2 linked regions of the Homo sapiens genome follow. The protein of the gene in region 1 purifies or fractionates together with the protein of each later gene. This does not show direct contact. Each region holds a gene or a part of one and is shown on either strand. Other genes may lie near its edges.

Region 1 (5,318 bases):
TGCTCTGTCACCCAGGATGGAGTGCAATGGTACAATCATAGCTCACTGCAGCCTCAACCTCCTGGGCTCAAGCAATGCTCCTGCCTCAGCCTCTTGAGTAGCTTAGACTACAGGTGTGCACTACCATGTCCAATGAATTTTTTATTTTTATTTTTTTGTAGAGACAGAGTCTCGCTATGTTGCCCAGGCTGGCCTTGAACTCCTGGTCTCAAGCAATTCTCCCTCCTCAGCCTCTCAAAGGGCTGGGATTACAAGTATGAACCACCATGCCTGGCCAGAAATCCATCTTTTTACAGGAAGCTTTACAAATTTTGATGGATGGGGGAATATATATAATAAAAGGCAAGTAAGTAGGGGAAATATTATTGGTAGAGCCTAGGTGGTGGTGGATACACAGGTATTCACTGGAAATTCTTTCAGCCTTATATGCTGGAAAACGTTCATGGGGAAATGCTGAACAAAAACCCCTGAAGGCGATCAAACAACACCTATGGGGCAGATGGATCTGCAGACGGCCAGCTGCACTCTGTGGTCTCCAACAGAAAGCTTCAGCTTCAATGACCACCTTCAACGTGTCTGGGACCTCTCCTCCGCCCTGCCCCAAACCCCCAATCCATTTGTTGGTCCCACACCCTTTCCTATACATTAGTAAAGCTGGGCTTGCCAAGGTCCACCCGACACCCATTCTTGTCCACGTCTGTGATGGGTACAGATCAACTCTCCTTCAGCCCCATCTCCCCAAGCACCAAGTGTCAGCAACACATACACCTACAAACACCCTCCACACAGCCTCCCTCAACCCATGCAGTCCTTTCTTTTTCTTTCTTTTTTTTTTTTTTTGAGACAGAGTTTCGCTCTTGTTGCCCAAGCTAGAGTGCAATGGTGCAATCTCGGCTCACTGCAACCTCCGCCTCCCGGGTTCAAGTGATTCTCCTGCCTCAGCCTCCCAAGTAGCTGGGATTACAGGCACATACAACAACACCCAGCTAATTTTGTAGTTTTAGTAGAGACAGGGTTTTGTCATGTTGGTGAGGCTGGTCTCAAACTCCCAACCTCAGGTGATCTGCCCACCTCGGCCTCCTGAAGTGCTGGGATAACAGGCATGAGCCACCGCACCCAGCCAGTCCTTTTTCTCTTGAAAGGCCCCCACATCAGAGTTCTGTGACTGAGCTTCACGTCCCCAACTGCTTCATGGCATTAGGTTTGTCTTCCCAAAGAAGGCAACCAGCACTTCCCCTTTCACCGTCCATCATACCTAGCCCTGGGCACACACAGTTTTGACTCTTCCATGAAGCAGCTCATCAAAATGTACATTGGGAGTTTAATGAGAAAAAGAAAACCACACAGACATGCCAGGGCCCCACCCAGACTTACTGAGAAATGGAATCTCAGAGCAAGGCGGGGAGATGGGGATGGGGAGAGAGGGTTCAGGCCTGTCGGATGTTTATGAAGCTGGCCTAGTGATGCTGGCTGGCAGCTAAGGCTGAGAGCCAGTCTCTGGGGCACGGTGTTGACTTAGTGATCCCTTGCTGAGCCCTACAGCATGTACAGAAGGGATGGTTTTTACCTTGCAGAGCACTGGGTCTCCAGATACCTGGCTATGTCTAGAGGTGCTTTTGGTTTTCACCACCTTGGAGGTGCGGGGAATGCTACTGGCATCTAGAGGGTGGAGGCCAGGGATGCTGCCAAACATCCCACAGTGTGGTCAGGCGGGGTGACTCATGCTTGTAATCCCAGCACTTTGGGAGGCTGAGGCGGGCGGATCACCTGAGCTCAGGAGTTCGAGACCAGCCTGGCCAACATGGTGAAACCTCGTCCTTGCTAAAAATACAAAAATTAGCCGGGCGTGGTGGCTCACACCTGTAATCCCAGCACTTTGGGAGGCTAAGGCGGGTAGATCACACTGTCAAGAGATCAAGACCATCCTGGAAAACATGGTGAAACCCCATCTCTACTAAAAATACAAAAATTAGCCAGGCATGGCGGTGTGTGCCTGTAATCTCAGCTACTCAGGAGGCTGAGGCAGGAGAATCACTTGAACCCAGGAGGTGGAGGTTGCAGTGAGCCGGGATTACGCCACTGCACTCCAGCCTGGCAACAGAGTGAGACTGCGTCTCAAAAAAAAAAAAAAAAAAAATTAGCCAGGCGTGGTGGAGGGTGCCTGTAATCCCAGCTACTCAAGAGGCTGAGGCGGGACAATCACTTGAACCTGGGAGGCGGAGGTTGCAGTGAGGTGAGATTGTGCCACTGCACTCCAGCCTGGGCAACAGAGCAAGACTCCATCTCAAAAAAAAAACAGGCTGGGCACAGTGGCTCACGCCTGTATTCCCAGCACTTTGGGAGGCTGAGGCAGGCGGATCCTGAGGTCAGGAGATCAAGACCATCCTAGCTAACACGGTGAAACCCCGTTTCTACTAAAAATACAAAAAATTTAGCCAGGCGTGGTGGCAGGCGCCTGTAGTCCTAGCTACTCGGGAGGCTGAGGCAGGAGAATGGTGTGAACCTGGGAGGCGGAGCTTGCAGTGAGCCGAGATCGCGCTACTGCACTCCAGCCTGGGCAACAGAGCAAGACTCCATCTCAAAAATACAAAACAAACAAACAAAAAACCCACAAAGCAAACCTCAGTCCCTCCCAACGGAGGATGATCCGGGCTCCAATGTCAACAGCAGCCAGGTCGAGAAACCTGCTCTGAACTGGCAGAGTGCAACACACCTTTTGGTAATGAAGGAAATGGTCTGCAGCCCCTCTGTCCACTAAGGAAACTCACTGGCCACACGTGGCTCCTAAGCACTTGAAATGTGGCTACTGTGACTGAGGAATTAAGTTTTTATTTTAATTCATTAAATTTCAACAGCCAAATGTAGCTAAGGGCTACAATATTGGACCTGATGATATTACTCTAGCAACACCTCCATACCCTAAAAATGTCTCCCTGGCCAGGTGGTGGCTCATGCCTATAATCCCAGCAATTTGGGAGGCCAAGGCAGGAGGACTGCTCGCGTCCAGGAGTTCAAGACCAGCCTGGGCAACACAGCGAAACCCTGTCTCTATAAAAAATACAAAAACTAACCAGGCATGGTGCCGCATGCCTGTAGTCTCAGCTACTCCCGAGGTTCAGGTGGAAGGACTTTGGTTTTTTTTGAGACGGAGTCTCGCTCTGTTGCCAGGCTGGAGTGCAGTGGCACAATCTCAGCTCACTACAGCCTCCAACCATCAAGTGATTCTCCTGCCTCAGCCTCCCAAGTAAGCTGGGACTATAGGCGTGTACCACCACGCCCAGCTAATATTTGTAATTTTAGTAGAGACAGGGTTTCATCATGTTGGCCAGGATGGTCTCAATCTCTTGACCTCGTGATCTGCCCACCTCAGCCTCCCAAAGTGCTGGGATTACAGGTATGCACCACCTCGCCCGGCCCAGGTGAGAGGACTGCTTAAACCTGAGACGTCCAGGGTGCAGTGAGCTGTAATCCAGCCACTGTACTCCAGTCTGGGCAACAGAGCAAGACCCTGTTTCAAAAAAAAAAAAAAGTCTCCCTGCCATGTGCCCTATAAAATCAGTGTACACAACCAAGAAAGTCCACGGGAACATGTGTGTGACTTGCTTCTCAAAGCTCCACCCATCATGGATCCCGAGGTCAGGAGTTCGAGACCAGCCTGGCCAACATAAAACCCCGTCTCTACTACAAATACAAAAAAAATTAGCCAGGCGTGGTAGCAGGCGCCTATAATCCCAGCTACTCAGGAGGCTGAGGCAGGAGAATTACTTGAACCTGGGAGGTGGAGGTTGCAGTGAGCCAAGATCGCGCCACTGCCCTCCAGCCTGGGCAACAAGAGTGAAACTCCATCTCAAAAAAAAAAAAAAAACAAAACAAAAAGCACCACCCACTAGAGGCACAAAGAGTTCAAAGATCACGTCTGCCGCACAGGCCCTTCCAGAGATGAGCATGGGCCTGGGGTCTGGAGTCCCTCATTGCAGGGTTCCTTCTTCCAGCCAAGCATGCCATGCCTGTGTTGGACGCCTGTCTACACCTGAGCACACTTCCTCTCAGCCCCTCACCTTGATGGTTTCCAGCTCCATGCGAAGGCGGTTATTTTCGGACAGGAGGTCTCTGTTCCTGGTTTCAATTTGTTGCAGCTGCGTCTCCAATTCAGCTTCATATTCTCGGCTTCCCTCCTGGAATTCTCGGAGTTCCTCTTGCGTATTTTCTGCCCTACAGCAAAATTGTTAATCATCACGTAGTAATATTTTTGAAGACAGAGTCTCGCTCTATCACCCAGGCTGCAATGCAGTGCTGCAATCTCGTCTCACTGCAACCTCTGCTTTCCAGGTTCAAGCGATTCTCCTGCCTCAGTCTCCCGAGTAGCTGGGACTACAGGCATGCGGCACCACACCCAGCTAATTTTTGTATTTTTAGTAGTGACGGGGTTTCACCATGTTGGCCAGGCTGGTCTCGATCTCCTGACTGGAGGTGATCTGCCTGCCTCGGCCTCTCAAAGTGCTGGGATTACAGGCGTTAGCCATTGTACCTGGCCAAATTCAAGGAATATTTTAAAAATATCAAGCCTGAATTACCTTTAAGTCAAACTAGAATAAAGAAAGTAGGAAGGGCTGGGTACAGTGGCTCATTAAGAATTACTTGAGGCCAGGAGTTCCAGACCAGCCAGGGCAACATAGTAAGACCTCATCTCTACAGAAATGTGTTTAAAAATCAGCCAGACATGGTGGCACACGCCTGTAGTCCCAGCTACCTGGGAGGCTGAGGCAGAAGGATCACCTGGGGTCCCAGGGGTTGCAGTGAGATAGGTCACACTTGTGAAGAGCCAGTGCAATTCAGCCTGGGTGACAGAGTGAGACCCTGACTCTAAAATAATTTTTATTTATTTATTTGAGATAGAGTCTTGCTCTGTCACCCAGACTGGAATGCAGAGGTGTGATCATGCGTCACTGCAGCCTCGACCTCCCAGGCTCAAGCAATTCTCCCACCTCAGGCTCCCAAGTAGCTGAGACTATAAGAACATGCCACCATGCCTGCTAATTTCTGTATTTTTTGTACAGACAGGGTTTTGCCATGTTGCTAGAGCTGGTCTCAAACTCCTGAGCTCAAGTGATCTGCCTACCCAAAGTGCTGGGATTACAGATGTGAGCCACTGTGCCTGGACCTAAAATAATTTTTCAATAAATGAAAGAAACTAAGGGGACTGGAATAAGGCCTCTATGTACAAATTATAAAGACCCATTATAAATAAAAACAGTGCCAAACCAAACGCACACACACACACCTCCCAGATATGAGCCCTGACCAAAACACGAGTTTCA
Region 2 (5,318 bases), on another chromosome or scaffold:
CGGCAGAACAGCTTGGTCATTTACAAGCAAATTCAGTCTTGAGCTTGCAGACACTATCAGAAACTTGATGGAGGGATAGCGTCTTCAGGAACGGGGTGCTCAGGGACACAGTTTATCCTGTATTCTGTAAGTGCTAAAATGTCTCTTTGGGTCAAGCCAGATCAGTCAAGACCTGGTACCTAGATTACATCTTAGTCTCCCAGTAGAATCAGGTTTCTAGAATTGAGTTTTAGTATAGTGCCAGTGGCTCAGATTCATAGTTGTTAATAAGATGTAGCCCTATTAAATACTTTTTGTCTATAACAAGGATGTAGTTAAGGATTCTGTTCATCGACATCCTCAACAAAAGACATCGCTGTGTAATCTTAGTACCAAAACCTTTCCTGATCACTTATCTGTTTTCATCTCATGGGCACTGTAAACTGTTTTGCAAGAAGCGTTTTCCTTTTTGAATTTGCTGTAAGAAAAGAGCTACATTCATACTCTTCCCTTAGATAAAGATATCTTTGTTAATGATTTTATCAAAAAGTGGATATAGATTGCATCTAATATATAAATGTAAGATTTTAAGTTAAAACTAGCAGTTTTGTATGTATGCAGTTATACAGTACCACATTTATGATTTTGTTTTCAACCTCAAACTACATTATATGTTCTGTTTTGTAGTCTGTTTCACCTGATAGCTTAAACATGTCTGCCAAATACCCATGTCTAAATTACCATAGTTTGTTGCTTTGCCTTGATTTGGGCTAACGTGCCAACAGTTTTGCTCACTGTTGCTTTTTTACTATTTGTGCAGCTGTCAGCACAGTGAAAAGACAAACTATGTCTTTACTAACATTATGAAAATAGTTTTGACTGTGTGGACCCTGAAAAGTTCTCAGGGTCCTCCAGAGGCCCAAAGTTCACAGTTTGAAAACCACTGACTTAGTAGTTTCTGCAGTTCATGCAGAAAAGGACTTTATCTATTTCAATATTATAACAATGCCTTCTCTCCAGTATTTTCATGTTTTTCATTTTATTTTTTACATTTAAAATTACCTGGAATTTTATTTTCACATAAGGCATCAAATTGGCTCAATTTTTTTGAATGACTAACCAGATATTATAATACCATTTTTTATAATCCATTTTTTCTCCAAGTTGAAATGCCATGTTTATCACAATATGCATGACCTAACTTTGCCCCTGTTCTTGTTTTTCTTTTGCTCTACTCATTATATTTTTAGTTTTATGTACTTTATGTATTTGTCACAAATCTTTACTAAAACAAGGTGGGATATAAATGGATCAATAAGTGTAATACTGGAATGATATGGTATGTTACCTGTTTTAAACAAGATACTTATTTGATATGTGTTGGCAAGTTTTAATTTATAACTGTTGTTCCTTACCATCATCATAATAAAACAAATATTTCTAGGTTGGTGATGACAAAACTGTGAAGCAGTGGAAAATGGATGGGCCAGGCTATGGAGACGAGGAAGAGCCATTACATACAATATTAGGAAAGGTACAAAAGTAAATTGACTAATAGCTTGCCTATTAACATTCTTTTATTTAAAATTATTTTATAGTTATAATTTCCTAAGATGGGGAAGAAGATGCAGATAAGAAACGAAAGACTTTAGGCTGTAATTGTTGACCCATTTACGCAATATTTAATGCAGCTAAAGTCCTTTGATGCTAAAGAATTTTAACAGTTTTTTTTTTTTTTGGTATTCATTGTAGTAGAGTTTGATTTCTGTTTTTAGCCAGAGGATACAATGAAACATTTCCCATGGGAAGACCACGGAGAAAAAGATAGAAGTTCAGAAAATGCTTCAGCTTGTCTAGTTGATGTCATCATAGATCTTACACAAAACTCAGAATTTCTTAGTTGAAAGACTCCTTTAAGAAATGAAGAAATTTAATAGTATTATGCATCATGTATAAATCTTATTAATGTTTCTACCAAATTATTCTGCAAATCAGGTGATGGGTGGTTTAGTTTTAGCATAAGAATAATTTAGAACATTTGGTCTATCCATGTTTTATAATGTTTACATTTTTATATTAAGCAAACAATTCCAAAATTAGATTTAATCTTTAAATTAAATCTACCTTTTAAAAATCACTTTGTCGTTTCAATATTATGGTTAGTATATAATATTTAGGTTCTGCTTTAGGTTTCAAGAAGACTAAATGTTCTTAAAGGGATAGGGGAATGGGGTATGAGTATGAGGTAGAGATAATTTGTAGTTGGAAACACGTTAGTAATTTCTAAAACAAAATTGGTTTCATTCTTAAAATGTCTTGTCTCATTATGGTATTGTTTCCCCCTTTAAGTAAGGACTTCAAAGAAGTTTCTTTGTGAACAGGGCTTTTCTCTAAAAAGATAGTATAGATAAATATATTTAAAATATTATTCTGCAGATTTGAATTAGTAATGAAAAAAATCCTCTTAACCTTTTTGCTTTTAAAGACAGTGTATACTGGGATTGATCATCACTGGAAAGAAGCTGTTTTTGCCACATGTGGACAGCAAGTAGACATTTGGGATGAACAAAGAACTAATCCTATATGTTCAATGACCTGGGGATTTGACAGTATAAGTAGTGTTAAATTTAACCCAATTGAGGTAATGTTTTTTTTTAAGTATGTTTTACTTATTATGGCTTAATAATTTCAGTTCTGTTTAGAAAACTTTTGAATGTATGATAGAAACTTCTGAATTTTAATGGTGTTTTGGCATTTTGTCAGTTTTCCCGATTGTAAATGAGTTCTGATACCTTTGCTCAAATCCCAACATGTTTCCCAGCAGTTTAGTCCCAGATACTAGAGTTAAGCATTGTTAGAGGAGTGGTGTGTGCATTTGCCCATTGGGGTAAAATCCAAGTAAATATAGTCTTGTTTTAACTTTAGTTTTACTCATGCCTTCAACTTCATGTTCCATAGATTATGTCATTGTACATTTAGGAAAATGTTAATTTTTCTACCTGCCTTGGAGGTCAGAAGAAGGAGCATTGGACATCATTTTGTCTATTTGTAATTGGTAAGGTACCAATGCTTCATAAAAACATTTGTGATTATTGTTGAACTGCATGGTAATTAGTTATAGTTATATTTTTCTTTGCTCAGAAGTCTGAATTGTGATTCCCAGTTCCTCCAGGCCTAAGGGAAGAGTTGGAGATTGGCCACTACATGTCGTCTGTTTAGGTCTGAATTTAGGAATGGAGGCTGTCCTGAAGGCTAAGCTAGCCCTTGGACTCCAGATCTTTCTCTGAACTTTTTCTTAATGCATAACAATAGATGAACTGATTGTCCAGAAGACTCAGTAGGGATATGTTTTTCCTGTTGAAAGAAAAGGCAATCATAGCATATATAAGCCAATTTTAGCAGTTATTGCGAGGCTACCATTTTAGGTAGTATGAGAGAAAAATCCTAATATGCAAGTGTTATGCTCTTAAAGACCCAACCTGATAAAAGATAGGAAGTAAGGTTGAGTCAAAATAGTAAGGTATAAAAATAGTTTGTATGATATACTGGAAAATGAGATGCTGCAGTGCGATGTGAGCTTGGCCTTGAGGAATTACTGAGAAGTCAGAGGACACTCTTCCTGCAACTACCACATGCTCACACACACACTTTCTAGAGACGCTACAGGTCTAGAATAGGTTGGCAAACTAGTCTGTGAGCCACATGTGGCCCACTGCCTGTTTTTGTAAATAGAGCTCTGCTAGAAGACAGCCATGTTCTCTTGCGTACATATTGTCTGTAGCTGCTTTCGTGCTATGATGGCAGAGTTAAGTAATTGCCACAGAGACCATATGGCCCACAAAACCTAAAATACTTACTCTCTGGCCCTTTACAGAAAAAGTTTTCTGATTCCTGGTCTGGAGTGTCTGTCTCTATTATATCTTTCTCACTCCATCCTCCATCTTCCTTCCTTATGTTTCCCTTGGTTGTAGAAGAGAGAAGTGGCATGGAAAGGCAGCTACCTTTGCAGAGCAGGACCAAGTGTAAAAGTTGATAACATATGTGAACATTTTTTAAAAGTGCTATCCAAATTCAAGATGGTGACGGTATTACGTACTAAAAAAAAAACACAAAAAAACCTAAACAGACACTGGTTCTTACTATTTAGAGGAACAAAAAAATCTTTTGCTTCTCTGCTTTGGTGAACATCTGTGTCAGAAGAGCCGATCACCAATTCTAAAATCGTAATTATTAGGGATGACCTAGTGACCATGTTTTTCAAACTTGCCTGTATAGCAGCTGTATTTGTTCAGCTGTTTTTTTTTTTAATTGCTATTAACCTTATGAACTTAGTGGTAAAAGTAAATGGTGTGTGTGTCTCTTATCCTGTTTTAAACTTAATGGAAAGGGCATGTTGCTGTGAACAAATGGAGTGTATTTGTATTTGTCTCCTCTAATCATTAATAATTAATTTTCTCTTAAAATATTGAAGCCTAGAATTCTGGTAAAGCCAAAAGTTTATGCTGATCATTGGGACGTTTTACAGTGTGAAAGGTGGCATTTGGTCTAGGTAGATTGTTTTGCTTTGTTCAGATCAAAGTCTTTCTTTTTAGAAATGGAACCTGGTCAGACCCTGAGGCGACATAATGAGAAGCCAAGAAAGGTTGAGGGACCTCACTAGGGAAGTCTCAGAAAAGCAGCCATTAAGATAGCAGGCTTTCAGAAAGAACTGAGAGGAAATCATGATCATAACATTAGCTTTATGATGTGTTATTTGAATTGCGTACAGACAGTAGGAGGAGTTAGCTGGCCATGCAACTATTTAGTAAATAGCTCTTCTTGCTGCCCACATACTTGCAATAGGAAGTAATTGTAGGCAGAAGCCAATAGTTGTGAGTGTCAGGAACCATGAGTGAGGAGGAATGATGCTACAGAGAGAGGGTTTCAGGGATCCACTGGATGATAGAGGGCTTATTTTTACTTAATGCCAAGGGGTTATGTGAGTACCATGCACATTTATAATTGACTTACAAATAAAATAATTAGAAAAATCTTCAAACAGTTGGACAAAAGACAGGCCTAATTTATAGAGAGTTAACAACACGAAGAAACATTTACTAATAAAACAATAAATTTATATAGCTAGGAAATACTGTCATACAGATATTTTAAATGACACTTTTAAATGACACTACCCAGTGCTGCCCAGTTGCATTAAAATGGACATATCCCACATTGTAGTGTATACTGGTACAGCTCTTTGGAAAAATAATTAGCCCTAAATATCAAAAGCCATAAAATTGTTCATACCTTTTGATTCAGTAATGTCATTTGTGAAATTTTATCCTAAGGAAATAATT

The links. The genes of interacting proteins can lie anywhere in the genome.
Region 2: the proteins of NDE1 (region 1) and DCAF13 purify together in Homo sapiens (affinity purification with mass spectrometry; one large-scale study listed by BioGRID and IntAct). This does not show direct contact.

What each region holds. Positions count from the first base shown.
Region 1 is NC_000016.10:15,666,180-15,671,497, reverse strand, and holds part of NDE1 (nuclear distribution protein nudE homolog 1), read right to left. Parts: intron 4,213-5,318; coding exon 4,059-4,212; intron 1-4,058. UniProt on the Homo sapiens protein: Required for centrosome duplication and formation and function of the mitotic spindle. Essential for the development of the cerebral cortex.
Region 2 is NC_000008.11:103,424,633-103,429,950, forward strand, and holds part of DCAF13 (DDB1- and CUL4-associated factor 13), read left to right. Parts: intron 1-1,423; coding exon 1,424-1,513; intron 1,514-2,464; coding exon 2,465-2,620; intron 2,621-5,318. UniProt on the Homo sapiens protein: Part of the small subunit (SSU) processome, first precursor of the small eukaryotic ribosomal subunit.